2 separate regions of the Homo sapiens genome follow, and region 1 is linked to region 2. Evidence: fine-mapped expression QTL. A gene starts in region 2. The other region holds a variant in brackets. All regions are shown on one strand. Distances are from middle to middle. Region 1 overlaps CDK5RAP2 (CDK5 regulatory subunit associated protein 2). Region 2 holds the start of CDK5RAP2 (CDK5 regulatory subunit associated protein 2).

The links.
Region 1: its variant is fine-mapped to the expression of CDK5RAP2 in whole blood (INTERVAL, PIP above 0.99).

The regions. Positions count from the first base shown.
Region 1 is chr9:120,375,188-120,391,688 of GRCh38, forward strand. CDK5RAP2 (CDK5 regulatory subunit associated protein 2) reads right to left here. Exons shown (of 38, transcript NM_018249.6): 37 at 14,554-14,600; 38 at 13,688-14,105. The coding sequence ends at 14,049. Among named protein-coding and RNA genes, the nearest start is that of MIR147A, 140 kb to the left of the region's middle. RefSeq lists a silencer at 5,322-5,530 and an enhancer at 14,918-15,418. The variant T/C (reference allele first, on the strand shown) is at 12,059.
Region 2 is chr9:120,576,518-120,591,449 of GRCh38, forward strand. It overlaps CDK5RAP2 (CDK5 regulatory subunit associated protein 2), which reads right to left and starts at 3,650. Exons shown (of 38, transcript NM_018249.6): 1 at 3,403-3,650. The coding sequence starts at 3,461. RefSeq lists enhancers at 3,322-3,884, 3,738-3,867.

The sequences.
Region 1 (16,501 bases), 200 kb before region 2:
ACAGGTGAGGAAACTGAGCCTCACAGAGAAGAAATTGCTAGGACATGTTGGAAAAAATGCTCCCAACCCAGGCTCTGACTCCAGATCTTCACCCTGGTACCTAGATGGGGTCTGTTGCAAATGGTGACTTGGAGGTCTCTGATTAGACCTAGATGCTGCCTGGACAGGTCCTACATGACACCATTTGAGTCTGCCCAGTGCTCTGGTAAATGTCTCCCCCCTCCCACCCTTGTGTGGGGATCTGCTCCCCTTAACTCAGCTCCCCACACCCTGCCCTTGTGAGGAGTCCAAATGAGAGGTGCTTGCTTCACCCAGGACCCTACTCTCAGCCACGGGGGTGTTTGCTGGGTAGACTCACGACTCGGTTGGAGCCACTTGGTTCCTTCCCTGGGATTGTTCTCACAGCTGCAGGCAGAGAGCATTTTCCTCTCTGGTTATGAAGCTGAGAATGTGTGAGCATGGGCCGAGGCTTACACCTGGAATCCCAACACTTTTGGGAGGTGAGTGAATTCCTTGAGCTCAGGAGTTCTAGACCAGCCTGGGCAACATGGTGAAACCCTGTCTCTTCAAAAAAAATACCAAAAAAAAAAAAAATAGCTGGGCACGGTGGGGCACACCTGTAGTCCCTGCTACTTGGGAGGCTGAGGTGGGAGGATCGCTTGAGCCCAGGAGGTGAAGGTTGCAGTGAGCCGAGATTGTGCCACTGCACTCCAGCCTGAGTGATAGAGGGAGACCCTGTCTCAAAAAAATAAAAATAAAAAAGAAGAAGACAGTGTGAGCATGGATGCTGCTCCACTATGTGGCCCCCACTCCCAGCCCACCTAGGAGAGATGTGAGTCGCCTGTAGAGGTACGGAGCACTGAGTAGCATGGAGAGGTCCTGCTTCCAGCCCCTTCTGAGGCTGCCCCACCCTTGCCCCTCCCAGTTGGTTACACAAGACACTTAAACCCCTTCCAGGTCTAACTTCCTTTGAATGGGGTTTCTGTCACTTGTCACCCAAGAGTTCCAAGTGGTATGATTGGGCTCATAGAGCTGGGAGAAAGGAGGAGCTCAGCCTGATGTGGCGGGAACTGTCTCCAGTGGATTGATACTAAGCCCGGTGGGGGAAGGGGCTAGAAGTGGATGTTCTGCAACCTGGAGATGACTTGTCCCTGCCTCACCCCAGGATGAAGCCATGGGTATACGAAGCCCTCAGTCAGGCTCAGGCCCCACTGCCCATCCGGGCTCATCTCCCACCCTGCCATCTTTCACGCACAGCCTCACCACAGCACCCCGTCATGTCTCGTGGGGATGGGACCTCACCATTCTCCTTGCCTCCACGCTTTTGCATACTGTGCCCCTAGGCCAGCCCCTCCTACCACCACCTGCCTACTTGTTATAGACAACACCTCCTCTGGAAGACCCCTCTGGACTCACCACTCCTCAGTCTGCCATGGCAGTCAGCCTATTGCTGCTCGTAGCACCTGAGCTGGAATTGTCAGCACATGCTAGTCCCCTAGGATGCTGTGAGCTATTTAAGGACCACATATCAGCCTCCCCAGTGCCCAGCCCTGGGCCTACCATAGGGAGAGTGTCACTCATCAACAAGTATCTACTGAGCAGCGGACACCATTCTAGGTGAGCAACACAGAGGAGTCCCTGCCCTCATGGAGTTTATAGTCTATGGCGGGAAAACATGACCAAGGATAAGCATAACACATACAAAAATCACACAGCACGAAGCCAGCTAAGTGGCACCAGGTACACAGGGGCAGGTTGGGATTATGAATAGGGATGGGTGGTCAGTGTAGTCCTGATTGAGACGGTGACTTCAAGGAGGTGAGAGGCTAGGCCACACGGATGTCTGCGGAAAGGGGATTCCAGCAGAGAAAGCGGCCAGTCTTTGAAGCAGAGGATGTCGGGCGTGCTTAGGGAAAAGCAAGGGAGCCCCACGGCCAGTCTGGAGGGAGTGGAGAAGGAGGGGAGAAGGGCTGGTGGCTCCTGGGAAAGGCAGGCATATTTGGCTAAGAAGCTCAAGAAGTTCTTGTTGAACAAATCGAATTGAAATTTGAAAAGATTCTTGTAGTCTAGGTAGCAAGAACTACATGAATAATGAAAATGGGGGAATGTCAGTGAAATTTCATGGCTATATGATCAGAGCACAACTGGCGGGAGGACGTCAGGGGAGGTCTGAGAAGCAGTGCCTCCAGCCAGGATGCGGGACTTGTGTCCACCTTGGGGGCAGAGTGGGGAGCAGGAGCACAGGCGGCAGAGGCTGGATTTGTTTCCTAGGGCTGCTGGAACAAAGCGCCACACACTCAGCAGCTTGGAATAACGGAAGTCTATTCTCTTGCAGTTCTGGAGGGCAGAGGTCTGAAACCCAGGTGTCAGCAGGGCCGTGCTCCGTCTGAGGCTCGGGGTGGAATCTGTCCCTGCCTCGTGGCTTGTGGTCACGTGGCCATCTTCTTGCTGTGTCTGCATCTTCACATGGTGCTCTTCTCCCCTCTCTCCCGTTTCTTACAAGGACACCGGCCATACTGGACCAAGGGTCCACCCTGCTCCAGTATGACCTCATCTTAACTAATTACATCGGCAACGACCCCATTTCCAAACAAGGTCACATTCTGAGGTACTAGGGGTTAGGACTTCAACATATCTTTTGGGGTGACACAATTCAATCCATACCAGAGGCTTAACCTCCCAGGGACCCAGTGGGTGACTCTGGTGCTCCACTGAGCCTCTCTGGACCTCGGTCTGTCCCCTTGTAAGACCAAGAGGCTGACACGTCATCCCTCAGGCACGCAGCTTGCGTCTCTCCAGCTCCTTTTGAAGAATCTTCTCTCCTCTTCTCACTGCGCCACCTCTGATCTCCAGCGCAGCAGCGTGGGGACAGGAGCTCAGATGATTCCTAACTCTATCTTCACCATAAAACAAATATTTTGAAAAGCCTTTTGATGTCACTTTAATGGAGTGTGGAAAACACCGTTCAACCCCCCGCATTTTTAATTTCATCCTTTTTGCTATTTTTTTTTCTCTTTTAAAGCTTGTGTTTGCTTTCATGTTACACGTTATTTATTTAGTTGCTTGTCAATTAGTGTCTATTCTCCAAGCGACAAGCACATTAGCAGCTGCAGAGATTGGAATTAAAATTCGCGGCCCAGTTGGTGCTACAGTAGCTGGGCCTACCCGACTGAGAAAACAGCACCTCTTTGTCATTTCAAAAGATGACCTTCCTCTGGCTTCTTCCTGTTTCTGGCTTCAGATTTAATTCCTACTGACTCCTCCGTGGTCACCGCACGGGCGTGATGGCTTTAAGATGGATTTTTTTCAAATGCACAAAGGAAGATGTGGGCTCCCGTTAACAGCAGCCTTTGATGATGGTTACTGTAAAACAGGAGTCGGCTGGATTTGAATAACACGCTCTAAATTGCCACTCTGAGGATTTTAACTCAGACAGCCTAATACTCCACACCTCCACTCAGCAGTTCAGCAAACATTTAGTGAGGTGACACGACGTAGTAGAAACAGTCAAACAGATCTGGCTGCACTATCAGCTCCTCGATTTACTGGGTACATGACTCTAAGCAAGTGGATTAACCTCACTGAGCTTTATTTATTCTTCTGAAAAATGGGAGAATTAAACCCAGCCACACAGTGATGTTGTAAGAACTGAGACTGTGTGTAGAGCTTTGCAATCCGAGCTTCCATGTCTGACTCCTCCAATGAACCAGAGGCATTTGCTTACATGGGTTAATGTCACAGCCAGCAGGACTTTGGAGAAAAAGACTCATGAAGCTGAGGCTCCATGGCTCTGGGGTGGAGATAGGAGGAGACTGTCTCCAGCCCAGCCCAGGCCTAGATCTGACCGCCGTTCACTTCAAGGCTGCAGGCAGAAGGCAGAGGAACTGTGATAACCCAGCCCAAGCAGGGTGGCTTCAGAACCCAATGACAAGGCAGGCAACCTGGGAGAGCAGTATTTTCTCATTTTCTGTTCTCAATATGCTACTGCACAGATCCAGGCAATGGAGGTATTGGGATGACTTTTCTCTGCTCACATCCCCTTTCCACTAGGATCCCCTGTCCTGTCCCCGCCCAGTTAGATCCTAACACCAGCTCCCCTCTACCACCCTCCCCTACCCCGCACTCCAGCCCCTTTTGCCATAACACATTTCCCCTCTAACAGAGGAGACCATGGGCTTATTACAGGCGTCCACTGCTAAAATCTAAGCAGGGGCCTTTGTTTTATCCCAAGGGCCCAGGACAGTGCCTACTCTGTAAATATTTGTGGAAAGATGACAACTGCAGGTGATGGGGCCTGACTTATGGCAGAGCGGGGAGATGCAGTGAGGAGCACAAACCAAAGCAATGTTTAGGAGGAAGATATTCTTAACTTGCTCTGTGCAGCAGGAGCCTCAGGGGCTCTTTTCAAAAACAAGAAGCCCTGCACCTTGCCACAGACTCATCACACCGCAGTCTGTGGGACCAGGATTCTGATCCTCATGCTGAAGAGTCCCTGGTAATTCCAACGCAGCCAGAGCTGAGAACAGCCAGGGTTCTCGATGCAGCTGAGATGGAGAGACACAGGCTGAGAAGACACGAGTGCTGATCCCAGCTCTGCCTCCAGCTCGGGGTGTGATCTCGGGCAAGCACTCGCCACACTCAGGGACTCATTTTTCCCATCTGGACCAGGAAGGGGTTGAGGCACTGGTTTTCACGGGATGTCCCTTGAAGCCCTAATGTTTGGTAGAGGGACCTCAGAGTGGGGGTGAGGCTTAGTGTGCTCCCAAGCACTCAGGACCCTGGGGGGCCCATCTTGGCTTGCCCTAGAGCTGACCCATCTGCTTTGTATATTGGGGTTCCACACAAGATTTCTTTTTGAACAAACGGTTCCAATTCACAGGTGTTTGGGAACCACAGGCTGGACACTGGCTGGGACTTGGGAGATGCTGGCGTTACCAGCTCTGGCCTCAGGGCTTCACCTTCTCCATCTGTCTAATGTGGGGTGGACCCAATCACCCCAAAGTGCCTTCTCACCTGGGAAGTTGGGGTATTCCAGTTTCATGGTAGCAGGAGTGTTGGGAAGAAGAAAGGGAACTGGGTGAAGACAGGAGACAGTGTCTGCTGAAGGACAACTATCATCACACAATATAACACTCTAATGGTGGAGTCTTTTATATGAGAATAGATATTATGGAGCACAGTTCCATCAAATGAATATAATAGAATACAATGCACACTGTAATTACACATTTCAATAATTCCTTCAATACATTACATACAAGCATTCTGAAGTAATGGAGTCCTGGAACCATATATAATAACGTGCCTAAAGGGAGACCCTATGGGTGGTGACAGGCCTCCCAGCCGGCAGGGAGAAGCAAAACCTCCTCCAATCCTGGGCCACGTGGCTTCTCACTCTAATCTCTGAAGACTCTCTGGAGGAAGTCCTTGGTCCAAGCACCTGCCCACTGAGAAGAAATCCCTTCTACAACATCATCAACAGCTAGCAGACAGCCTCTGTAACATATCTCCAGGGATGGGGAGCTCACTACCTCACAGGTTATCTATTCAGTGGCCCCTGTCATTAGGAAATTACACACTACAAGCATATACATATCATCTCTAAATTTATATGATCAAACTTGTACTGACTGAGGCACGAGATTCATTTGCTACCGCTGTCATAACAAATCAGCACAAACCTTGTGGCTTAAAACAACACACATTTATTATCATCTTACAGTTCCATAGGCAGAAGTCTGACATGGGTCTCACTGGGTTAAAATCAAGGAGTAGGCAGGACTATGCTGTTTTTCTGGGGCCTTTAGGGGAGATTCTGTTTCCTGCATTTTCCATCTTCCCGAAGTCACTTATGTTCCTTGACTCTTGGCCCCTCCCTCTGTCTTCAGCCACTCTCTGATCCTTTCCCTGGTGTCACATCTCTCTCTGGCCACAGCTGGGAAAGGTTCTTCTCCCTTAAGGAACCATGGAATTAGAGTGGGCCTACCTGGATAATCCAGAAAGATCTCCCATCTCAAGGTCTTTAACTTTAATCACCTCTGTAAATTCCCTTTTGTCATATAAAGTAACATATTCACAGGTTCCGGGATTAGAGTATGGACATCTTTAGGGGCTGTTGTTCTGCCTACCACAGGCGCTATTTTATCATTACAATACCTGACTTATTGTGACTTCCTCTTCATCTGTACAAAGGAGATCATAATGCTTTATGGCATTAAATGTGACTATACACCTGTAGTGCCTGGCATATACATGTTTGACGAATGGCAAGCAAATTCAGTGAACTGAGGTGAAAGTATCAATGATATGATCCACTTTGTCAATATCCTTCCTAAAGCAAGGCACAGGAAATGATCACAAGGCCCACAGAACAGTTGGACAAGTCATGGAGGTCTGACAAGAGCCAAATAATTCACCTCTCTTGTTTGGACTCTGTATCTCTATTAATGCAGCCAAGGCATCGTTAGCATTTTAGACTTCTTCTTTGGTCTCAGTTAACTTAGTTGCTTGTAGTCAATTAAGACCCTAAGACCATCTCCAGTTACAAGGGATCATACCCCTGTTATAGGGAGACGAATTGAGGCATAAAGGATGAAGGCCCAGAGGTGATGCCTGAGGTAAAGATGAGTGGGAGTGAGTCAGGCCCAGGATGTGGGTGACGGACATTTCAGAACAGTAGACGCAGGTGCAAAGCCCAGAGCTGCAGGATGCCGAGGAGATGGTCTCAGGGGCCTGCAAGAAGTGTGGCAAGAATAGCAACTTCATGGATGGGGGCCGGGGAGATCATCAAGGACAAGCCCCGATCTATGGGAGATGAAGGCCAAGGCCAGATGGGAAGGCTTGGATGCAGTGGAGGAGTGGGGACTTGGTCTTGGGAGGGTTTGCAAGCAGAGAAGTGACATGATTGTCTTGCAATTGACAAGATCATCCTGGATGTGGGCAGAGACAGTGAGGGGTGGGTGCATGCGCAGGAGACAGGGAGACCCGTGAGAAGACTGCTTCCTTCACCCAGGCCGGAGGCGCCCAGGCTGGCTGCAGGCAAGCGGTGTTTAAGTAGGAGGTGGACATGGAGAGGAGAGGAGAGGAGAGGATACGACAGAGTGGAAAGAAGAAGGAAGCAGAATCCGCTGGGCTGGGGGGAGGACAGGATGGCCTGTTGCAGAGCCTGGAGGAGCTCTGAACTCAAAGACAGGGAACTCTCCAGGGAGGAGGAGGCTTGGGTAGAAAAAAGTCGTTACCCCCACCTTAAAGGTGAGGCTGGAAACTGAGGCTGGGAGAGTTCAAATCACCTCTGTTTCTGTGACACAGCCCCTTGCTAGGCAGTTGCTTGGACCACTGTCCTGTCTCCAGACAGAGGAGCTGCCTGCGGCTGGGTCACTGGCTCACTAGAGGTGGGGCCAGGAGACTGCAGGTAAAACAGGAGTCCCAGGTAGTCCCCGGGGAGGCCACCCCCTGGCCTCATCTGAGTAGGAGGCCGGGTTCCTTTCTTGCCATCAGCCTTCCTGCAACAGCAGCGAGAAGAGAGTGGGCTTCTGTGTCCTCACAGCCATGGGGCTCACTGCCTGGGCAATGACCGAGTCCCTCACCCCCTCCCCTGACTGGCCTCTCGTCTAGAGTTTTCTTTCTGCCTCCTCCCAGGGCTTTCTCCTTCATCGCTGGAATAATCACCATTGTTTTCCCAATGCCACACACACAAAAAAGGCCCAAATCTCCAGTACCTTGTGTCCAACCTCGTGTTTCATGCCCCGGCCACACTCCACTACCATGGGTCCCTCAGTGGCCTCCATGCCTTTGCACAGGCTGTTTCCTCCCCTACCACAACCCTGTAGATTCTGCCCACCTTGAAAGATGCAGTTGGCATTCCATACTGTTCCATACTTTCCGTACTGCTCTTTCTCTGTGGAGGTGCCCACACCACTGGCTGGGCCAGAAACCTGCAGCATGGACCCTCTCCTCCTCACCCCCGCCGCCAGGGCGCGCACACACACACACACACACACACACACACACACACACACACACACACACACACACACGGGTCCTCAGGTCCTCATAAGTGTCCCAAATCCACCCTGCCTCTCTGTTGCCGGCCCCTGACCAGGTGAGGACACTCCAGCCTGCACCCTGGACACTCGGCAACATCCCCCAACCCCTTCCCAGACAAAAACTTACCCGTGCCTCCCCTGCTGCTCCCGATGACACCCACCCGCCTCAAGCTGCCACTGGAGGCACTGCCTATGCCGCTGACTGAATTCTAAGCTCTAGCCAGACCAATGCACCACTCACAGACCCTAGTCCCTGCTGTTTCCTCTGCCTAGGAGCCCCACCCCCACCCCTTCTCCACCCCACAATTCCCAGTTGGCCTTTACTGTTCATCCAGGGTCACCCGAGGACACCTTCCCTGCTCACCTCCAAGGCCGAGTAGGAGCTCATTTTCTGGGTGCCCACGGCCCCTTGTGACCATTTATCACGACCACGGATCACCTGTGTGCTGGCCTGTCTCCCATGCTTGACTGGGAGTGCCTCGGGGGCCCGCGGGGCTCTGGGAGCTCTGGGCTTGGGTAGGTGCCAGCAGATGTTGAGTGTGTAACTGTGACTGTCTCCAAATACTTTCCTATGTTGAGTGTCCACACCTCGCCCACCTGTCTCTCCCTCCCACACCCACTCCACACTCTCCAGGTGGGCTCCCAGCCACTGGCTTCCACCACAAAGGAGCCCTGGGCCTGGTCACTCTCTGTCTGTGGCCCCCGACCCCACCATTGTTTTGGCTAAAGAAGAGGGCGAGGCCAGGGCGACCTTGTTCTCTTATTTCCCTGTGTCTGCCCACACCGTCGGCCAGTGTCACACACGAGCTGGGACCACATGCTGTTCTGTTTGGAACGAGAAAGTGGCATTAATACAAACAGAGGGTCGTTTTAGACCTGAAACCATGTAATTAAGCTCTCCCGTGAATGCCTGTTAACAAGGAGGTGCTTTCGCATTTGAGAGAAGCACGTGTGGGAGGGCGCTTGGTAGCCACCATGCACTTAGTCCCATTGTGATCCAGCTGGAGGGGTGAGCCCTGCCCAGTGCTGCCCTCTCGGGTCAGGCAAGGCCGGCGGCTTCCCAGGGAATGGGGTCAATGGGAAAAGAGGGGACTTGGGCAACCCTGAGGACAAAGAGGTCTAAAAGGTTGAGTCAGAAGCAACTCCAACTGCCTGCCTCCCAGCGAGGATGAGGCCCCTCTGGGCCTCACCAGGAGCAGGGCTGGACTTTGGACCACTGGCAGGAACTGCCTGAGTGGGCCGCAAGTGGAAGCAGACGCTGCCAGTGTGGGCTGCACTCCAGCCTGACCAGCTGCCTGGGCACTCGCCAAACTAAACTGCACTCACACGCAGCGGCAGGGAGCTGGGCTCTGTAGCCTACGGGCCTCCATCTGAAGCTGTGTGATCTTGGGCGGGTCACTCTGTGCCCCAGTCCTTCATATGAAAAAAGCAGTCCCTCCCACCCAGGGCTGTCACAATGACTGCCTATGATGATGTTCCAAAGACAGCCAGGCTCCCAGGACCCCAGGTCTAAGCAAATGTTCCCTATTCACTATATTACTTGTCTGTTCTCCCGACCAACCTGAGTTCCTCCAGAAGGAGGCTGGCGAAGCTTTGGCAATGTTTGCTGAGTGAATATATTTGCTGGCCCTGTCCCAGGCAGCGGGGCTGGTGTGAGCAAATCACATGAGGTCTGTGTTCTCACGGAGCTTCAGGTCAATGACAGGGAGAGGAAGAACCCAAAGTCACACAGCGGCCAAGTGCCAGTGAGGGGGGATCATCACGCTCTGATCATGCAGAATAGGGGCTCCTGATCGGGAAGCCATCTCTGACTAGCAGGAGAAGCCACGGTGAGAGCATGCTAGGCAGGCTGCAGCATGTGCAAAGGTCCTGTGGACAGAGACAAAAGCCCTAAGAGACTAGAGCACAGGGAGCCAAGAAGGCAGACAGGGGGGCTCAGGGAACTGAGGGCTTGCTGACCACACTAGGTGTGGTGAGAGGCATCCCATATTTTAAACAAGGGGGATAGTATGATTTGCTTTCCCTTTTAAAGAATCACTCTAGCTGTGGTCTGGCAGACATTTGGAGGGGTGGGTGGATGTGGGAGGCCAACTGGACAGTAAGCTGTCCAGGTGAGAGTTAATGGTCACTTGGACTGAGGTGGCACTGGAGATGAATGAAGCGATGGCCTTGGGAGATACAAGTGGAGAGAGTGGCCCTGATCATGGATGGGATATGGAGGGTGAGGGAGGAGGTGCAAGGATGTCTCTAGCATGTGCTGCTGGCCAAAGGCAGACCCTTCACTGAGGTGAATAGATGAACCCCTGCAATTTGGCCATGTCTGGGCCTCACAGTTAGCCACTGTATATCTTTCCACATCTCATAATTTTTGTGAATAAGGAAACCGAGGCTTGGTTCCACTAGAAGGCCCCACCTGGGGAGCCGGGTCTCTGGATCTGCTCACCCCCATCCTACCTGGCACCCATCTGTGGCAAGAGGTAAACAGGTCTAGCCCCTGAGGCAGAGTCCGGGGCTTCTCAGGAGATGGGATGAGTGATTTTGATAATTGCATTTTTGAGTTAGCCTTAAAATATGGCCAAGATTGAAGAGGCAATTTGGCAGGGCCGGATCCCCCAGGCAGGTTTCTCGGTTTCCACAATGCCGAGAACTTATTAACAAGATCACTCTTTCTCCCTTCCACCACCCACTTACAAGCAGTTCTCGGGGCTGCTGTGTTGAGGAATTCAATTGTGGGTCTCTGGGCTCCTGCTCTGGTCATCCAGAGACATTTTGTTGGAAAGGGTAGACTGAGAATACTTCGATTTGTAACAGGGAAATGCTGCAGTTTCTCGAAGAGATGGCATTTTGGGGGAATACTGATAATCCAAGGGACATCAGGTTTTAACAGACTCAGGTTCAAATTCTGGCTACATCCCTCAGTCTTCTCATTTGTAAAATGGGTGAGGTGGTGCAGATTACTGAGATGCACAGTGTGGCTACTGCCATCCCAGGTGAGCGCCGGCCTGAGGCGCGAGGATTTTACTCTCCAGGACCCCGATAGGGACGTTGGGATGTGGGCCTCGGAAGTGAGATAAAAGCACCATTTCCAAGGTAGGGCAAGCAGGGGGCCCTGGGCCTGTCTCCCAATCCTCTCACTATATATTTAGTCCCTGCAGCTGTTTCTCTCAGGTGCAGCTCCTCCAGCACACGTGGTGATTAATTTCACTGAAGGGAAATTGACGCATTTTCTGATTACTGCTTCAAAGCCTCCCGAATTCAGCTGCTGGTAAAATTAACTCACCAGGGACAATGGAGCTTTTTCCAAGGTCCAAATTGTCTTATTTGCAGTTTGTTCTTGGCATTAATCCAGCCCAAACAAACCAGGCTGCTCCTCCACCTCCCAGAAGAGGGAGGGCCTTCACTAGCCCAAGGTTGAAAGTATTTTACGTGACTCTAAACTGGCGGATAAAAATGCACTTCGTTTTAGATTATTGTGTTCCTGAAAAGCTGTGGGTGACCTGAAGCAAATGGCCAGCTGGGCTCCTGGAGCCCCTCCTCTGCAGCTCCTGCTCCAGGCGTGCCTGGGTTCACCAACCAGACGGGCCTGGGATGTACCAGAATCCAATGTGGATCTCTCCTCCAATCCCTGCACCTCAAGCCCTTGCCAATGACCAAGTTCAGCTCCCATGGGCTGTGCACTGACCATGTGCCAGGCAAGGTAGGACTCTTCCCCTGTGGGGACATCTGAGCCCAGGTCTGACTTCCAGGCCTTGCCTGAGCTGCATCTACTACACTGTACAACCTCCTCCCCTCCTCCCCACTGCCCCCGCAACCACACATGCTTACATTTGCGCACACCTGCCTGGAGGGTAAACACCCTGACAGCAATAGCTTAAGCACAACCTTAGAACGACCCTGTATGGCAGACGCGTCTTAATGTTGTTCTGAGCTAGAGAATCTAGGAGTGGCCAACCCGGAGATTTGTTCCTTGTTTGTGAGGAGTATCTGAGCCCCCAAGCCCGTCTCATGGGACA[T/C]GGGCTGTACAGGGAACTGAGGCCCTGAGTTTTGGGTTAAAAAAAGGTTCCCAGGTAGAGGTCCTTGGGGGAAGGTTAAGTGAAAATGCTATATAAACTGCATGCTGTTTATAAGTGGTGATGGTTTTCCTGCCCCACCTGGGCCGTGGGCTGTGTTGTTCAGCCGCTGCCACTGAACCATCTGTTTCTGTACGAAAAGCAGTTCTCCTGTCCAGCCTGCCGCCTCTGGACTGTTCCCCTGTATGTAAGCCCCTAATAAAGCCCACATCCTGTTTGCTGGCTCTGTGGGTCTCTTCTCAGGCCCCTTGAACCTGGTGCCTCCCCTACTGAGGTTAATAGGGGTTTGGCACAACACAGCCATAGAACTTAAAACAGTACTTTAAAACTTGCTTAAGACCAGCCACTGAGACAGTGAAGAAGAGTCACCGATTTGTGGAAAGGGCCTTGTTGTTCAGCTGCTTTCAAAATCTGAGGCTCCGAACTCTGTAACAGTACTGGACAAGAGTAACTCTCATTTACAGAAGCACAAGACTCGGGACGGGAACCAGGCCTCCTGCTCCACAGCGCCACACCGACCCAGCTTCCATTTAGGAAGTCAACTGTTGTGACTGCTTGCGAAAGGCACTCCAGTGACATTATGGCTCAATCTGAGTTTTCACACACTGGTACGTATTCTACCGAGGTACACCTGTGCAAATATTTCTCAGGAAGAGCACAGATGGCAGGAACCGAAGCAGAAAGGGTCTGTACTGCCCACTTCCTCCGCCCCTCTCTTAATGGATGGGGAGACAGGCAAAGTGGCATGAGGCCACTCCCCGGACTCCCAGCCGGGGCTGCTGCACCCTACGCTTCCAGCAAGTGCAATCCCGTCTCCTCCCCTCACCATCGTGTCTGGGGAGCTGGGCGCCAGGTCAGGTGCTGGCAATTCCATGGTCAACACAAGCCTCTGCTCTCCAGGGGCTCAGAGGATTTGCACAGTGGTGTGGGGGCTGCGGGAGCAGAGGTGGGGCATTTCACCTAGTATCGGGTCAGGAGAGGCTTCCCCAAGGGCAGAAAAAATATTTCTAAAGGACCATTCAAAGCTAACTAGAAAAAGAAAGGGTGGGAGGAGCATGTCCAAGAGGGCGCAGCCTGGGTTAGACTGGGGAGAACACTGTTCCGTTTGCCTGGAACACAGAGTGGAGCGGGAGGAGGCGAGATGGGCAAGGAGCTGGAGGTGCCAGCAAGGCTTGTAAACCTTGTTAGGGGCTCGGGCTTGGATCAGAGGGTAGTGGGAAGCCGCTAAAGTGTTTTGGCTGGGGGCATCTTGGTCAGAGGCAGCGATGTGGATGGCTGATGACACACCCCTGTCATCACGGGAACAATGCAAATGCCACATTCCAGCTCTGGGCCTCACTCTGCTCTTTGCTAAATCGGGAATGGCACCACTGCAAGGGCTGCTGTCCAGCAGACTGTGAGATGCTGAGCACACACCAGTGCCCATGGCCACGCTGCACGGAGGTGCTCTTCTCTGGACACTTGAACGAGCTCAGCAGTGAGCCATGCGACTCGTGGAACCCTGGCCTGTCCCACTTGGGATTTTGGGACCTGGGCTTTGAGGCGCCACACAAAACAACAGAATCGTCAAGGTGAAATGAAATGAATCATTTAATGAGAATCTTCAAACTGTGGCACTGGCTGAGTACTAAGCAAATCCAGGGGAAGACGTGAAGCCCACCAAGGCGCACAGCCTCAACTCCGGTGCCTGCCCCTGATCTGAAATACAACATCCAAGAGCTCGAGGCCTTTTTACCACCCGTTTGTGGAGCACCTGCACCTTTCTGACAACAACTCTCAAGCCAACTTTCAGAGAGAAAACATGAAGGGAAAAAATAGATTTCCTTTGGCCAGACAGCTCTTTCTTCCTCAATAAATAGGAACCACACTTGGAACAAAGAGACAGCGTGAGCTCGGTGGGGGAAGCACAAGCTTTATTGGCTGAAAGTTCTTCTCAGGAGCCTGGTCTGCTGGGACTGCATGTTCCTGGATGGGCTCCCCCAGGCCTAAGCTAGGAAAAGGAAGAAAAAAAAGGAGAATTTTAAGTCCAAAGGAGGTTTCTGAAGTAAGACCCCGACAGAGGTGAAAGCGAGACTGTTATTCTCAAAGTGCTTTCAAAAACATAGTTTGGTCAGTAAATATTTACCTAATAAACAACGATGAGATCATACTGTATTCATTCATTCAAGAAATATTCATCAAATGCCTACTATGTGTCAAGCATTGTTTGCTGTATTTCTTACTGGTAAAAATAGCATACAAATTTAAAACTTAGAACCCCTACTGGCGACAGGGCATGATAAAACACAACTTTTCATGCACTGCTGGCAGAAACAACTCTCTGAGGAGGACATGTCCCCTGGTTCCACCTGCACCTTCATTTTTCAAGAGGTCCTTTCTGGCCCTGCACTCCTCCTGACCTTCCACTGGCCTGCAGTGAAAAGACTCAAAGGGCATACCTCCAGGTTTCCTCTGGCCTTCCGAAGGATTTTGTGGGTTACGACCACTGAGGAGAGAGCAAAGAATGCAATGATTAGGGCCATGGATATCCAGGAGAGCTGTGTGAAAGCCAAGTGCAGGGAGGATGAACCCCACCCCAAAGGGCTCGGACATGTAGACAACACGAGGTCTGAAGCATCCAGACCAGAGGGAGGTACAAAGGGCCCACCTGACCCATCACAAACCCCAGGGCCAAATAACGCATCAACAACACCTCTTTGAGGCCCCGCTAAGCCACCACCTGACAGTGATGCAGAGGCTACAGCATGCTATGCCGGTTCAGAGAACACCCTACAGCTGTGCACGGCCACCTGGCTGTCCAGGTATCCCTCAGGCTCACTTCTGTGGGCCAGGGAGGGCAATGGCGCAGGGAGGGTAGAGGCCTGGGCCTGCCCAGCACTCTTTAGTTTCCTAGGCCCTCTGGGAAGCAGCTGTGGGAAGGGACTGTGCCCCGATCAGGCAGACCCACATATGAGGGTCCAAGTTCTACGAAGCCAGGTTTTTACCCAGCAGCTCTTAGAGCCAGCTCCAAATGGCCTGGAAGAAAAAACCGTGGGCATGCTGCTTCTCCTTTGCCTGCCCTTTAGCTGGTGGAATAGCCCAGCCTGATTCCTCTGGGCAAGTCACATTCTGCCTGGACAAGAGCTGGTTGGGTGGGATGGTTTCAGAGGTCCCTGCTGACACTGACGCCCGGAGCACTGTACTAGAAAGATCCCCCGTGCATGAGAATTCCCAGGAGGGGCAGGCGAGCCCTGGCTTTCAGGAGCAACTGTAAAGGTGGGTCTTCCTTCAGGCTTTTTCTTGTCCAACACAAACTCCAGCAGTGGCAAGAATGCCCCTCTTGATCAGAGTTCTGAGCCTGATAGGGAATCTGTTCTCAACAGGGCTTGGTGAGAGTAAGATCAGCTTACTCCCCACGTTGGAAATACCAAAGGCTTCTGGAGCCGCGCCTTTAGCCAACAGTGCCAGAGGCTGTAACAGACTCAACGCCCAACACACATAGCCTGACTCCCCAGTGGCTTCTTCAGAATAGGTGTCTGTCGTGTGGTGGCCTTGAGAAAATATTGATTTCTTGCCTCACGAAAATTTCCATCTGGAGGTAATGGAGTTTATTTGCAATCTGTGACACTGGGGACGGGACAGACGGTGTGGACTTTGTTTTTAGCCAAGCAAAACGACTTTCAGAGGTGGCCACTGCCCCTCTACCCCAACCTGACCTCCTGCTGCAGGGCAAAGTTCCTGACATGGGGCCCTGGATATGTTTGGGGGGTCAGTCCTAAACCCTCCGACACTGTGTGCAAATGGGGGTATGTATCTGGACGTCCGCATTTTTCCACAGAGAGACCACAGCTTTCTCCAGATTCACCAAGGGGCCTGAGACCCAGAAAAGATTAAGTATCACAGCTGTGGAGGTTGAAGATGATTGTGAAAGAGCACTCCATGTCCCTAGAGAACAAAGCTCATGGCAGAAGAACTAAGGATCACTTGGCTCAAGCTTTGAGGGGACCCCTACACCTCAACAGCACTGCCACGTTCCAAAGCACAGAAATCCCCACTGCAAGGAGAAGACCGAGGAACACAGCGACAAAGGACTCGTCCCAAATCTAGACTGGCCCCAGCACAGAGCTGGGACTCACATGTGGGCCTGCCCAACTCAGTCCATGGTTCTTCCCACCTCAGCAGAGTGCTGGGAAGAAGGTACCGACCTGAGCTGAGCAGTGTTGACCTGGTGACAGGTGGTTTCCAACGGTGGCCTCACTGAATACTCCCCCACCCTATGGGGCAGAACTACTGTCCTCGCTTTGCAAATGAGGACCTGAGGCAGCTGGTTCCAGGTCACATGGCCAGTGAGTGGCCCCAGGGCATCAGGACTCTTAGGGTCCCACTGGGATGCCTTTTCCTTACTTT
Region 2 (14,932 bases):
ATGGTGAAACCCCGTCTCTACTAAAAATATAAAAATTAGCCGAGCATGGTGGCACGTGCCTGTAGTCCCAGCTACTTGGGAGGCTGAGGCACCAGAACCGCTTGAACCCACGAGGCAGAGGTTGCGGTGAGCCGAAATTGCGCCACTGCACTCCAGCCTGGGCAAGGGAGTGAGACTCTGTCTCAACGACAAAAAAAAAAAGACCACAATGAGATACCTACCATGTCACACCCAAAGGATGGCTATAATCAAAAGGACAATAAAAATATCAGTGAAGGGCAGGCACAGTGGCTTGTGTCTGTAATCCCAGCTCTTAGCAAGGCAGAAGCAGGAGGATCACTTGAGCCCAGGAATTTAAGACCAGCATGGGTAACAGAGCAAGACTGTCTCTAAAAAAAATTAAAAACAAAAGCCTTAAAAAGGAAAGAAATTCTGACACATACTACAACACGCATGAACCTTGAGGACATAATGCTAAGTTAAATAAACCAGTCACAGAAGGACAAATAGTGTATGATTCTACTTATACGCGACACTTAGAGTAGTCAAAATCATAGAGACAGGCTGGGCGCAATGGCACATACCTATAATCCCAGCACTCTGGGAGGCCGAGGCAGGCACAACACTTGAGGCCAGGAGTTCAAGACCAGCCTGGTCAACCTGGTGAAACCCCGTCTCTACCAAAAATACAAAAATTAGCCAGGCGTAGTGGGGCATGCCTGTAGTCCCGGCCACTAAGTGGCTGAACCATGAGAATTGCTTGAACTCTGGAGGCGGAGGTTGCAGTGAGCCAAGATCACTCCACTGCACTCCAGCCTGGGCAACAAAGCGAGACCCTGTCTCAAAAAAAAAAAAAAAAAATCATAGAGACAGAAAGTAGAATGGTGATTGTCAGAGGCTGGGAGAAGGGGGGAATAGGGAGTTACTGTTTTAACAGGGACACAGTTTCTGTTTTGCAAGATGGAGAGTTACGAAGATAGATAGTGGTGACCGTTGAGCAATAATACAAATATATTTAATACAACTGAACCATGCTTTAAAATGGTTAAGATGGAATGTATGCAGTATCTACGTCCTGCAAAGGCAGGGAGATGAGGGAAAGGAGAATATTTGCTGATCTGTTGAGTAGTTACTCTGGGTCAGACACTGAGCTAAACTTTTTAAGATTCATTTTAATCCTTATGCCAACCCTAGGCTTTATACCAACCCCTTTTACAGATGATAAACACTGAGGCTCACAGATGATGAGTGACTTGCCCCAGATCAAGGGGTTGTTAAGTAGCAGAACTGGGATTAAAACCCAGCTAGGCCTGGGACCCCAAAACCCAAGTGTCTGGCCAAAAAGCACTGAAATAAGAATGGCTATCTGAGAGAATAATAATGGAAGTTATGATAACAGCAATAAGCAGCATTAAAAGTATAAAGCAGCAGACTGTGAAGAGCAGATTTATATTTAAAAAATAGTTCTCACGCCGGGCGCGGTGGCTCACGCCTGTAATCCCAGAACTTTGGGAGGCCAAGGAGAGCAGATCATGAGATCAGGAGATGGAGACCATCCTGGCCAACATGGTGAAATCCCGTCTCTACTAAAATACAAAAATTAGCCACGCACGGTGGTGCACTCCTGTAATCCCAGCTACTCCGGAGGCTCAGGCAGGAGAATTGCTTGAACCCGGGAGGCGGAGGTTGAAGTGAGCCGAGATCGCGCCACTGCACTCCAGCCTGGTCACAAAGCAAGACTCCGTCTCAAAAAAATAAATAAATAAAAAATAGTTTTCAAATTGTAGTATAAAAAACTATTAGAGGTGCAAAGGACAATACAAGAGAGAAGCCATACTCCCAATATATTGGGGCAGTGGATGTAAAATAGATAGAAAAGGGCATGATGAAATATCACAGGACCCAATTAGACAGGAACTGCAAAGCATCTTAGTCTGTGCCTCATACATGAAGGTTCTCAATAAACAGAAAAACCATTTGTCCAGGTTTACCCAAGATAGGCCCTCTTTATGTCTGCTGCCCGGGCATAAATATTAATTATTTTCACTTTCCTTTTTTTTTTTTTTAAAGATAGAGTCTCACTTTGTCACCCAGGCTACAGTGCAGTGGCATGAACACAGCTCACTGCAGCATCAACCTTCCGGGCTCATGCAATCCTCCTGCCTCAGCCTCCCGAGCGGCTGGGACTACAAGTGCATGCCACCACGCCTGGCTAATCTTTGTAGTTTTTGTAGAGATAGGATTTCACCATGTTGCCCAGGCTGATCTCACACTCCTGAGCTCAAGAAATCGGCCCACCTCGGCCTCCCCAAGGGCTAGGATTACACAGGTGAGCCACCGCACCTGGCTCTTTTCACTCTTAAGTGTCCCAGTTAGCACAATAAATAACATGGTCACCCTTTCAATTAGGATCTGTTGACTAAAAGCAGCAGCTTGTCCATAGTAGAGCTGGATAAACAGTGCAGGTTCTCCGTCAGGGCTCTCCTCCTCTTCCCTCTACTCACTCTCCAACCAGGAGTCTAGGACAACCACAGGGGCCAGCCGTGGAGCAGAGTTGCGCTCTGTTAGGCCTTCCTACCAGACCCCAGCTCCACCAGCAATGGGGACTCCCACAGTCTCTTGGGGCAGGTCCATGGGAGGCCACTCTTGGCCATTATTCCCTGATTCATATCACCTTTGATGACAGTAGTAATAATGACACTAATGGCAACACAAGATCATTTTTTAAGCACTGATTATGTGGCAGGCACTACACCTGCCAAGCAAATGGCTCGACAGGCATCACCTCTTTTAATCCTCACCCCAACTCTGTTGGGTGGATATTACTAGCCCATTTTACAGATGGGAAAGCCGGTGAAATCACTTTACCAAGGTCACACAGCTAGTCAGTTTACAGGGCTGGATTTGAATCCAGTTTTGTCCAACTCTAGCCAAGGTTCTTAATCATTGCACTCCATTGCCTCCTGGGTGGCCACTATGTGACCCAAAAAGCAAAGTCTGGGCATACCGGCTACACTCTCTCCATAATGAAAACAAACTCTCAAACCAGAAGGAACCATCAGGTGCCCTCAAGGTCCCTGTTCTCCACCAATCCCCACTAACGGGATACTCCAAGTGGCCCCACCCTCGTCCTACTCTTTCAGAAAACTCCTTACCTGTTCTTCACACGCTCTACAAAGTACATGGCGCAATGCTACTGGCAATTGTGGTGCAGGTCGCGGCTCCCAGCCCTCCAGAGTGTCAGGTGGTGGGCCCCCCAGAGACCCTCTCCGAAGGAACCCACCCCACACACTGCCCCTGGCCAGACACCCTCAAGAGCAAACCCCAAGGCCGCGTTAGAACGAAATCCCACCAGCTGGAACCCCGGCCCGGTTACCACGACCACCAATGCCCCGGCCGCACCTGCAGCCGCTGAGCGTCCCAGGGACGGTGACGTCCTCTTCCAACACCAAGTCCATCATGGCTACAGAGGTGGCGACAGCGTTGGTGTCTGTGGCGGCGGCGCCACTAGTACCCCCCGCGATAGCGACCCGCCGGGCTCCCCAGGTCCCCGCCCCCTCCACCCCAGCTCTTGTTCAGACTCTGGCGGCGCCGCTGGAATTCAAACCACAGACGCCGCCATCTTTCCCGGCGCTTCTTCCTACGGAAACGAGGCGGGGTCACGGAGGCGCACGCAGTGAAGCCGACCGGCTGGCGCCAGAGGACGGGCAGGGAAGCGGGGATAGGTGCCATCTTAACTAAGGGCAAAGCATCCGTGCTTAAGCCAAGCAAAAATAAGAGACAAAAAAAGGCCGGCTGCCATTTTTTGTGAGGGCACTTAGGGAGAGGCGAGGGCGGGTGCCATCTTTGTTGAGGGCCAAAGCGGGCCCTAGTCCGTTAATTTACGCGGGAGATGGAAATGAATACAGCCACTCAGGAATCCTCAAAGTTCCTAACCTCGTGTTTGCTTTTCTAGAATAATGACCCCAAAACTTTGGGATTTGACCTTAAGTTGAAACTCAGATAACTGAGTGCTGCCTTGCTTTGGAAAAATACTACGTGCGGAATCTCAAGGCAAACAGTAATTTGCAGACTTAGTTTGAAGCAAATAACTCATTCCCATGAGCCAGTGGTCAACAGCACTCCCACTCCAGTCTCTCACCTATTGGTCTTTTATTACCATTAGGACTCAAAGGCACCTGTGGTCAGAAAACTGAGGGCCAGCAAGAGGAAAGGACTCTCCCAAAGTAATTAAGTATTGACAATGTCTTTCAACTGGAGTGGGGGTCTGCAGCTCCTGCCAACTAGATGAGGGCTCTCTGCATAACCCTGGCTGCCTTTCTTTTTTTTTTTTTTTGAAATGGTGCCTCTGTCGCCAGGCTGGAGTGCAGTGGCCCGATCTCAGCTCACTGCAACCTTCACCTTCTGGGTTTAAGCGATTCTTCTGCCTCGGCCTTGCGCCACCACACCCGGGTAATTTTTGTATGTTTAGTAGAGACGGGGTTTCACCATGTTGGCCAGGATGGTCTCAATCTCCTGACCTCGTGATCTGCCCACCCCGGCCTTCCAAACTGCTGGGATTACAGGCGTGAGCCACAGCACCGGCCCCTTGGCTGCCTTTCTTAAAGCACATAGCAATCACCAAACACTTAGATAATCTTGGCAGAGCTTAAGCAATGAAATTAACCTTCCCCTCCTCAACTCAGTGTTGCTCCTTCCTCTGCAGGCCCTTGTGAGAGAGCCCGATGAAAATAACTTGAAATGGTTGGTGAGTGGATAGATAGTGACTTTCCCAGTAATCTTGAACAATTCCCCTTTCACCCTGTTTCCTCATTCTTTTTTTTTTTTTTTTAAATAGAGACAGGGTCTCACTATGTTGCCCAGGCTGGTCTTGAACTCCTGGCCTCAAGCAATCCTCCCACCTTGGCCTCCCAAAGTGCTGGGGTTATAGGCCTGAGCCACTGCACCAGGCCCTCATTCTTCAGTTAAGTAATTAACCAATTATTGATACTTTTCAAAAGAAGCCTTCCCTAGTCATTTAATCTAAATCAAGCCACTTCTTGTATTCCTAGCAATGCAAATTATTCCTTTGTGGCACTTACCATATTTTGCAATTTGTGTGTGTGTGTGTGTGTGTAAAATCATTTTTTAAATGTCTTTCCTTGCACTAGACTGGAAGCTGCATGGGGCAGGGACTATATTCTGAATTGTTCACTGCTATATCCTCAACACCTAGCACTATGTCTGCCACTCAGCAGCTATTTGAAAATGTATGTTAAATGAATGAGTGATTCAATCAATCAGTCTGGAAATAAGGCCAATACCTATCCTGCAAGGTTTTTGTGAGAATAATCAGAGATACTTTTAGGACCTCTGTCAATAGTAATTCTGTGTATCCCAGATTCATATTCATTCTCTCTCTTTCTCTCTCTCTCTCTGTCTCTCTCTCAGCTTTAGTTAGGCTTCCAAAGCCCGCGATTATTTGCCTGTCCCCCTTCTTTCTCTAGATCTTCAACCACACCCACAATTAGCAATGATAAAAGCATGAAAAAGAGGGAAAGCTTAGCACACCTGGTGCACTGCCTCAGGAACGGGGCAGTCCTTGAAGCCCAGGAACCAATACTCCTTGCCAGTAAGTTCAACCCATGAGATAGGTGTGTCCAAAAGCAGGGAAGTTGGGGTGTCAGGATTCCCACCCTGGCTCTGCCACCAACTCTGTGATCTTTGGCAGATCACCTTTTTTTTTTTTTTTGAGATGGAGTTTTGCTCTTGTTGCCCAGGCTGGAGTGCAATGGCACGATCTCGGTTCACCACAACCTCTGCCTCCCGGGTTCAAGCGATTCTCCTGCCTCAGCCTCCCAAGTGGCTGGAATTATAGGCATGCACTGCCACGTCCGGCTAGTTTTGTATTTTTAGTAGAGGCAGGGTTTGTCCATCTTGGTCAGGTTGGTCTCGAACTCCTGACCTCAGGTGATCCACCCACCTCAGCCTCCCAAAGTGCTGGGATTACAGGCATGAGCCACCCCACCCGGCCTGGCCAATCACTTCTCTGTGGACCTCAGCTTCTACATCTGTTAAATGAGAGGGCTGAACCTCTCAGGGTCTCTCAGGATGTTACAGCTCTGGAGGTGATTTCTACATTTCTTTTTTTTTTTTTTTTTAAGATGGAGTCTTGCTCTGTTGCCCAGGCTGGAATACAGTGACGCGATCTCAGCTCACTGCAACCTCCTGGATTCAAGCGATTCTCCCACCTCAGCCTCCCAAGTAGCTGGGATTACAGGCACCTGCCACCACGCCCAGCTAATTTTCGTATTTTTAGTAGAGACGGGGTTTCACCATGTTGGCCAGGCTGGCCTCGAACTCCTGACCTCAGGTGATCCACCCACCTCGGCCTCCCAAAGTGCTGGGATTACAGGTGTGAGCCACTGTGCCTGGCTTCTGTGTTTATTTCAAAGCTACTAACATACAACCAACTCTCTCCTGGGGAGGGAGGCTAACACTTCCCACATGAAAGAACTAACTTTGCATCTCCAGCCAATGAAAACTCTTGAGAATATAAACAAGGAAGAGAACTTATACATTTTGAGCATGTCTTATACGTCACTTGTTCCAGGCATATTACATGCACCACCTCATTTAACCCTCCCAACAACCTTCTGCAGGAGGCGCTACTATCTGACTTACAATTGAGAAGACTGAGGCTGCAAAAGGTAAAAACTACTTACTGAAGGTCCTACAGCTGGTAAGTGCCAGAGCTGGAATTGAGACCAGGGCCCTTTGAATTCCAACACCTTGATTGTTTCAGGCAACCTGTCATCCCCATTTGGGTTTCTCTTTTGCTTTAGAATTTAGTACTAAGAGGCAAGGTCTACATCCAGACGACAGTATTTAAGGGTTGTGTTCACCAGACTCTACTCCTTGGGAAACTGCTTCAAAGTGGCTAAGAGGTGAATCTTAGTGTGGGCAGTTTACAGAACTGGAAGTCTGGACACCTGGATTCTGACTCTGGAAACTCCTCCCATTTATCCTGTGACCTGGGGTTCCTTCCCCTTGCTACACTTCGATTTTCATGTGTAAAATGGGGAGGACAATGCTGAGTTCACATGGTTGCCTCATCTAATTGAATACCTTAGACATTATTGAAGATGAAAGAACCTGTGAGGAGTTGGGTTGTTTTTTTAACTTATTTAATTTTTTTTTTGGACACAGGGTCTTGCTTTGTCAACCAGGCTGGAGTACAATAAGAGTGATCATAGCTCACTGCAGCCTCCACCTTCCAGGCTCAGGTGATCCTCCCACCTCAGCCTCCCGAGTAGCTGGGACCACAAGCAGGTGCCACCATGCCGGACTAATTTGTTTATTTTTAGTAGAGATGGGGTCTTGGTATGTTGCCCAGGCTGGTCTCGAACTCTTGGGCTCAAATGATCCTCCCACCTCAGCGTCAGAAAGTACTGGGGTTATAGACATGAGCCATCACGCCCAGCCTAGGATCTCTCATTATGATTAGTCCATTGCCTTGTTCAGCATGACCATGTCCCTGGGTTGCGTGCTAAACCCTTTAGTGAACCTAGAAACTGAAAATAGAATCAATTGCACAAAGGAAAGGCTATTTGGAAGTTGGTTTTCCTGCTACTGTAGTGGTTTCATGTTCAGAGACAGAGGCCTTTGTCCTGTCTCTGTCTCACCATGATCTTTCTGCCAAACCTAGAGGTGACGTCACTACCACCAGCTGTTTGGGCTATCTGGGGCTATCTCCTTGACAACAGCCACCCAACCACAAAGCTGGCATTATTATTTCCTCAGACAAGGTCATATCAAATGGCTGGGAGGAAGTAGCTTGCAGTCAGATGTTTTTCATTTGGGTAGAACCCTCCTGAAGCTTTAACAGATCAAGACATTTGCACTGCCATTACTAACAGCAAAAATAACTTTTTATAGGATCAATATATACGCAATGCTACTACTTTGCACTCTTCCGTTTTATCCTCATGATGCTGTGAAGTGAATTGGGTTGATCGCCCTACTCTACAGAAGAAGAAACTAAAGGCTCAGAGAGGGGAAGAGATTTCCCAAAGGTCACACTTTTTTTTCTTTCCTTCTTTCTTAGTTTTTTATTTAGAAATAATTTCAAACTTAGAAAAAAGTTGCAAAAATAGTACAAAGAATTTCTAAAATATTAACATCTTCCACAACCATAGCACAATTGTCAAAAATAAGAAATTACATTGATACAATATGACTTATTACAGATCTTATTTAAATTTAATCTTTTCCCATTAATTCCCTTTTGCTGGTCCAGGATCCAATCCAATATTCCACACTGCATTTACTTGTTACATCTCCTTACTCTCCTCCAGTCTCTGACAGTTCTGTCTTTCATGGCAATGACACGCTTTGTTTTTGTTTTTGTTTTTGTTTTTGAGACACAGTCTCACTCTGTCACCCAGGCTGGGGTCCAGTGGCACTGCAACCTCCGCCTCCCGGGTTCAAGCAATTCTCCTGCCTCAGCCTCCCAAGTAGCTGGGACTACAGGCGCACACAACCACACCCAGCTAATTTTTGTAATTTTAGTAGAGACAGGGTTTCACCATGTTGGCCAGGATGGTCTCAATCTCTTGACCTCGTGATCTGCCCACCTCGGCCTCCCAAAGTGCTGGGATTACAGGCATGAGCCACTGCGCCTGGCCCAAGCTGCCCTTCTAAACCATGGCCGTGCTGAGATTCAAACCCATGCCTGTCTGGTCCCACAGTTGGCAGTATTTCTGGCAGACACATCTGCCCCCTTGCTCCCAAGACCTCTTACCAACCAACCCTCAACACCAGCAGTCCTTATTAGGACCAGTTCTCAATTAGTACCCACTGCCTTCTCTGAAGAGCAGGGTGATCAAGTCAGTGATGCCTTCTGGGCCCAACATGTAGCCCCAGGCTGTGCACATAGTAGATGCTCAATGCCAGTTTGTCAAATTAACTCCAAGTCCTGACTTTTTCTCAAGATGGAAAGTGGAATGAGAAATACCAAATATCAAAGGAATAGAATATAGATTATTGGACTAGGGATGGTAACACACATCAACATAATATAAGGTTAATACCAATCTCCCAGTTCAACTCTCTGGGCCTATTTTCTTATCTGTATGCTGAGTGCATTACACTACAACATTGAGGCCCCTTCAGCTGTGATGTTCCATGAATAACTAAAATTAGCTACCATATATTAAGCTCTTTCTATGTGCCAGGTACTGTGTTATATACTTTGCATTCAATCCTCACAATAACCTTATGAAACAAGAACTGATTATGCTCCAACTTTATGGTTGACAAAACTGAAGTACAAAGAGAAGAAAGAGTTGCCTGGCCATTGAAGGGGATCAAAATATGCCATCCCAACATATGCCCCTTTTGCATAAGGATTATTTTGAGCTGAAGACAATTGAGAATCAACAGATGCAGAAAGAATTTTCTGCCTTCTCCTTTTCTACCCTGAAGCAGGACATAAATTCCCCTTTGTGAACATGTGCCTCCTCCCTGTCTACCATTAGTTTCCCCCATATATTCCCTAATCACTTCCCCATGATTTATCAGCCTTGAAGCTCAACACTCCCTTCTTTTGCTATAATGGGATAAAAGCCCTTGAGCCTAACCACTTATTTGAGTTTCACTTCTTTTCTATGAACTCTTGTGCACATAACTATTAATAAAAATTAATATGCCTTTTCTCCTGTTAATCTGTCTTTTGTCCATTTAATACACAGAACCCTCAGGTACTGAACCAGACAGGTTAAAGGAAAGTTTTGCCCCGACACCATCCAAGTAGCTCAGTTGTGAAGACAGGATTTGAACCCAGAATTCATCCAAAAGCCCATGTTCTTAACCACTAGGCCGTAGTGCCTTTCACTGAATACCTGTCCTCAAGAAGCTGGTGAAAATGCACATACATAATTATGAAACAAAGCAAAACATTTTAAATACTTTGTTGGTATAAGAAAGATAACAGGGCTGGGCACGGTGGCTCACGCCTGTAATCCCAGCACTTTGGGAGGCCGAGGCAGGTGGATCACAAGGTCAGGAGATCGAGACCATCCTGGCCAACGTGGAGAAACCCCGTCTCTACTAAAATACAAAAAAAATTAGCCGGGTGTGGTGACACGCACCTGTAGTCCCAGCTACTCAGGAGGCTGAGGTAGGGGAATCGCTTGAACCTGGGAGGTGGAGGTTGCAGTGAGCAGAGATCGTGCCACTGCACTCCAGCCTCGTGACAGAGCAGGACTCCATCTCAAAAAAAAAAAAAAAAAGAAAAGAAAAAGAAAAAGAACAGTGAGATTCTAGGATCACAGAAGGGATTGAGTCATTCTGATTGAGCAGTTGGGGAAGGCTGTTTTACAAGTAAGACCTATGCCCTGCAAAAGCAGGATAAAAACCTGTACATACTATTATGTGCACTAGCTCCTCATGTTTGAAGGCCAACAGAGATCAAATAAAATCCCTACTTGATGCAACTATTTAAAAAGCCCATGTCACATTCTTCATCCCTTGATTCTACCTCACAACAGCTCTAAGACAAGTTTGTTATCATTCTTCTACTGATAAGGAAATTGAGACTCAGAGACATGAACCGATTTTCCCAAAGTCACACAGCAAGCTAGTGACAGAGAGGAGCTTGGACCTCCATTTCCTGATTCACAAAAGGTGGTTCCTGAGCTTTTTGAAACTTGCAGGAGCCAGAGATATGTCCCACGGCAAGATCTCCTACCTAAATTGATCATCCTCAGTACGATGGCCACATCCCCACCCACTTAAATCCAGGGTCTGGCTAACAGAGATCTAAAAGCTGCTGGAAAAATTATCCTAGGATGCCAGAGAGTGCTTTCAAGCACCCTCTCCAGCTGCACATTGAATATGTAAAGCAGCAATAGCTCTAAGCAGAGAAGGGTAATTGAATTAATCAACTGTCTGGACATTTTGCAGATTAAAAGAAGTACTTAATGTCTTGTGACTTGCAGGAGGGGACGGTAAACTTTGCATCTCCCTTAAATGCAGTGAATTCACATTGAGAGCACAGAGCAGGAACTAGAGAAGGATGAACACAACACTTGTGGCAGCTGCAGTGCCTCCTTCCTTAAAGGGATAAATGACAGTCCCCTTTTCCTTGCATGTGTCCTCCTGTGTGTGTGACATGCCACCAAGTACACTGCACAGGCTGTGCCCTACACAAGCACATCCACCCAAAGGAGGAGTGGAGGCTGAAATTGAGTCCGTGCTGTGCTGGACAAGCTGTGAGTTTATCCCAAAGCAGGGATGCCTTTTTTCTAATTCACACAAAAGAACTATACATGCCAGTGACTCTTAGAGTCTAAAATATGCTTCCTTCCCCTTCTCTGTGAGTCCTAGGGTCCTCTGAACAACAGTTTAAGAGAAAGTTTTGGGACCCAGTTTGGGTAGATGTCCCACCTCTGGACTCCCAGCATACCCTGAGCTTATCATCATTGTGACATTTAGCTCTGTAATTGTTAACTTGGCTGCCACAGTGTGAACTCCTTGAGGCCAGGAGAGGCAATGTCAATATTTTATTTTCATTTCATTTTATTTTTTGAGACAGAATTTCACTCTTGCAGCCCAGGCTGGAGTGCAGTGGCACAATCTCGGCTCACTGCAACCTCCGCCTCCCAGGTTCAAGCCATTCTCCTGCTTCAGTCTCCCAAGTAGCTGGGACTACAGGTGTGCGCCACCATGCCCAGCTAATTTTTGTATTTTTAGTAGAAACAGCGTTTCACTGTAGTGGCCAGACTGGTCCTGAACTCCCAACCCAGGTGTTCTGCCCACCTCGGCCTCCCAAAGTGCTGGAATTACAGGCATGAGCCACCACACCTGGCCAATGTTAATATTTTAAATCAACTTTATTGAGATAGAATTTACACAAAATAGGTGTACCCACTTCAAGTATACATTCTGGTGAGTTTTGGCAAACTTACATACTCATGTAGCCATCATCAGAATCAAGAGATACAGAATAGCAGACTGGACGCGGTGGCTCATGCCTATAACCCTAGCACTTTGGGAGGCTGAGGCGGGCAGATCACTTGAGGCCAGAAGTTCAAGACCAGCCTGGCCAAAGTGGTGTTACCCCATCTCTACTAAAAATACAAAAATTAGCTGGGCATGGTGTTGTGTGCCTGTAATCCCAGCTACTCCAGAGGCTGAGATAGGAGAATCACTTCTTGAACCCAGGAGGTGGAGGTTGCAGTGAGCTGAGATCACACCACTGCACTCCAGCCTGGGCAACAGAGCAAGATCCAGTCTCAAAAAAAAAAAAAAAAGAGAGAGAGAGAGGTAGAACACGACTCTCCAACAGAACTTTCTTGGATGATGGAAATACAGTATTCTAAATCTGCACTGTCCAATACAATAGCCACTAGCCACTTGTGGCTATTGAACCCTGGAAATGTAGCTATGTGACTGAGGAATTGAATTTTTAAAATGTTTATCTTAATTAAAATTTAAATAGCCACATGGGGCTAGTGGTTACTGTATTAGCATAGATGTGAAACATTTCCATCACCCCACAAGGTTCCTTGGTGTTACAGTCCAAGTCAATCTCCCTTCCCCCTCAGGAAATCACTGTTCTTTTATTTTTTATTTTTTGAGACGGAGTCTCACTCTATCGCCCAGGCTGGAGTGCAGTGGCGCGATCTCCCCTCACTGCAAGCTCCGCCTCCTGGGTTCACGCCATTCTCCTGCCTCAGCCTCCCAAGTAGCTGGGACTACAGGCGCTGCCACCACACCCGGCTAATATTTTGTATTTTTTAGTAGAGATGGGGTTTCACTGTTTTAGACAGGATGGTCTCGATCTCCTGACCTCGTGATCTGCCCGCCTCGGCCTCCCAAAGTGCTGGGATTACAGGCGTGAGCCACTGTGCCCGGCTTTTTTTTTTTTTTTTTTTTTTTTTTTTTTTTTTTTTTTTTTTTTGAGACAGAGTTTCGTTCTTGTCACACAAGGTGGAGCGCAATGGTGAGATCTGGACTCACTGCAACCTCCGCCTTCCGGGTTCAATAATTCTGCCTCAGCTTCCTGAGTAGCTGAAATTACAAGTGTGCACCACCACGCCCAGCTGATTTTTGTATTTTTTAGTAGAGACAGGGTTTCACCACGTTGGCCAAGCTCGTCTCAAACTCCTGACCTCAGGTGATCCACCTACCTCAGCCTCCCAAAGTGCTTGGATTACAGGCATGAGCCACCACACCCGGCCTCACTGTTCTATTTTTCCTCATTAAAGATTTGTCTTTTTGGGCTGGTCATGGTGGCTCTGACCTATAATACCAAAACTTTGGGAGGCCAAAGCAGGAGGATTGCTGAAGCCCAGGAGTTCGAGACCAGCCTACTCAATATAGGGAGTCCTCATCTCCACAAAGAAAAAATTAAAAATTAGTGGGGCATGAGGTGGCCGCGATGGCTCATGCCTGTAATCCCAGCACTTTCGGAGGCCAAGGCGGGTAGATCACGTGAGGTCAGGAATTCAAGACCAGCCCGGGTGACATGGCGAAACCCCATCTCTACTAAAAATACAAAAATCAGCTGGGCATAATGGCACATACCTGTAGTCCTAGCTACTGGGGAAGCTGAGGCAGGAGGATCCTTTGAACCTGGGAGGCAGAGGTTGCAGTGAGCTGAGATCACGCCACTGCACTCCATCCAGCCTGGGCAACAGAGTGAGATGCTGTATCAAAACAACAAAAAAAATTGTTTTTTCTTTCTTTCCTTTGTTTTTTGTTTTTTTGTTTTTGTTTTGAGACGGGGTCTCCCTCTGTCGCCCAGGCTAGAGTGCAGTGGTGCAATCACAGCTCACTGCAGCCTCGACCTCCTGGGCTCCAGCGATCTTCCCGCCTCAGCCTCCCGAGTGGCTGGTACTACAGGCACATGCCACCACACCCAGCCAATTTTAGTATTTTTTGTACGGATAGTATTTCGCCATGTCACCCAGGCTGGTCTCAAACTCCTGGACTCAAGCTACTCTCCAGTCTCAGCCTCCCAAAGTACTAGGATTACGAGCATGAGCCACCATGCCCAGCCAAGATTTGTCTTTCAACAGTTTCTTAGGACTGGAATCATACAGTGCATACTCTTGTGTCTGGCTACTCTGGAGAGCAAGAACTTTTAACTCTATACCCTCTGGTCTCTTATAGTGCCTGGCAGATAATAGGTGTTTAATAAATATTGAGGAAAGAATGAATTAATAAATCTTAACCAGAATTAATTATCTTACTCTGAACACCCTTATCTTCCCACTGAATAGAATACAAGAATTAAAAAGGTCCTCACAGAGAACATTTAACGAAACTTCTTGGATTTACCAGTGGAAAAACTGAGATCCAGATGGATTCAGCGGCCTGCCCAAGTTCACTCTACAAGTGCATAACAGAGCAAGAATAGACCCAAAATGGGCAGACTTCCAGGCCTGTGCTCTCCTCGCTTCACAATACCAGTTTCCCACCCATTTCCCATAGGCAAATATGGCGTTTCTTCATGGATCCCTGTGGAACCATAGAATGCCAACAACATGTCACTTTGCTTCTTTCAGCCTCCTGTGGATGCCGTCCTGGCCACAGACCACTCACTGAAAACACAGAAACAGCAGCAATTCAACTTAGGGAGGTGTCTCATTTCATTTAAGTATACCCAAAACCCAAGAGTAGCCTTACTCAAATACTGGGCTGTAGATTGGTTTTCTAGTCAGGAAGCAAACTAGCTGGTACCTGATCCAATTATCCACTCACTAGAGATAGAAAAACATTGCATTTTTTGTAAAGTTTTTATTTAAAACCTCTTTTTTTTTTTTTAGACGGAGTTTCTCTCTTGTCACTCAGGCTGGAGTGCAATGGCACGATCTCGGCTCACTGCAACCTCTGCCTCCCGGGTTCAAGCGATTCTCCTGCCTCAGCCTCCCGGGTAGCTGGGATT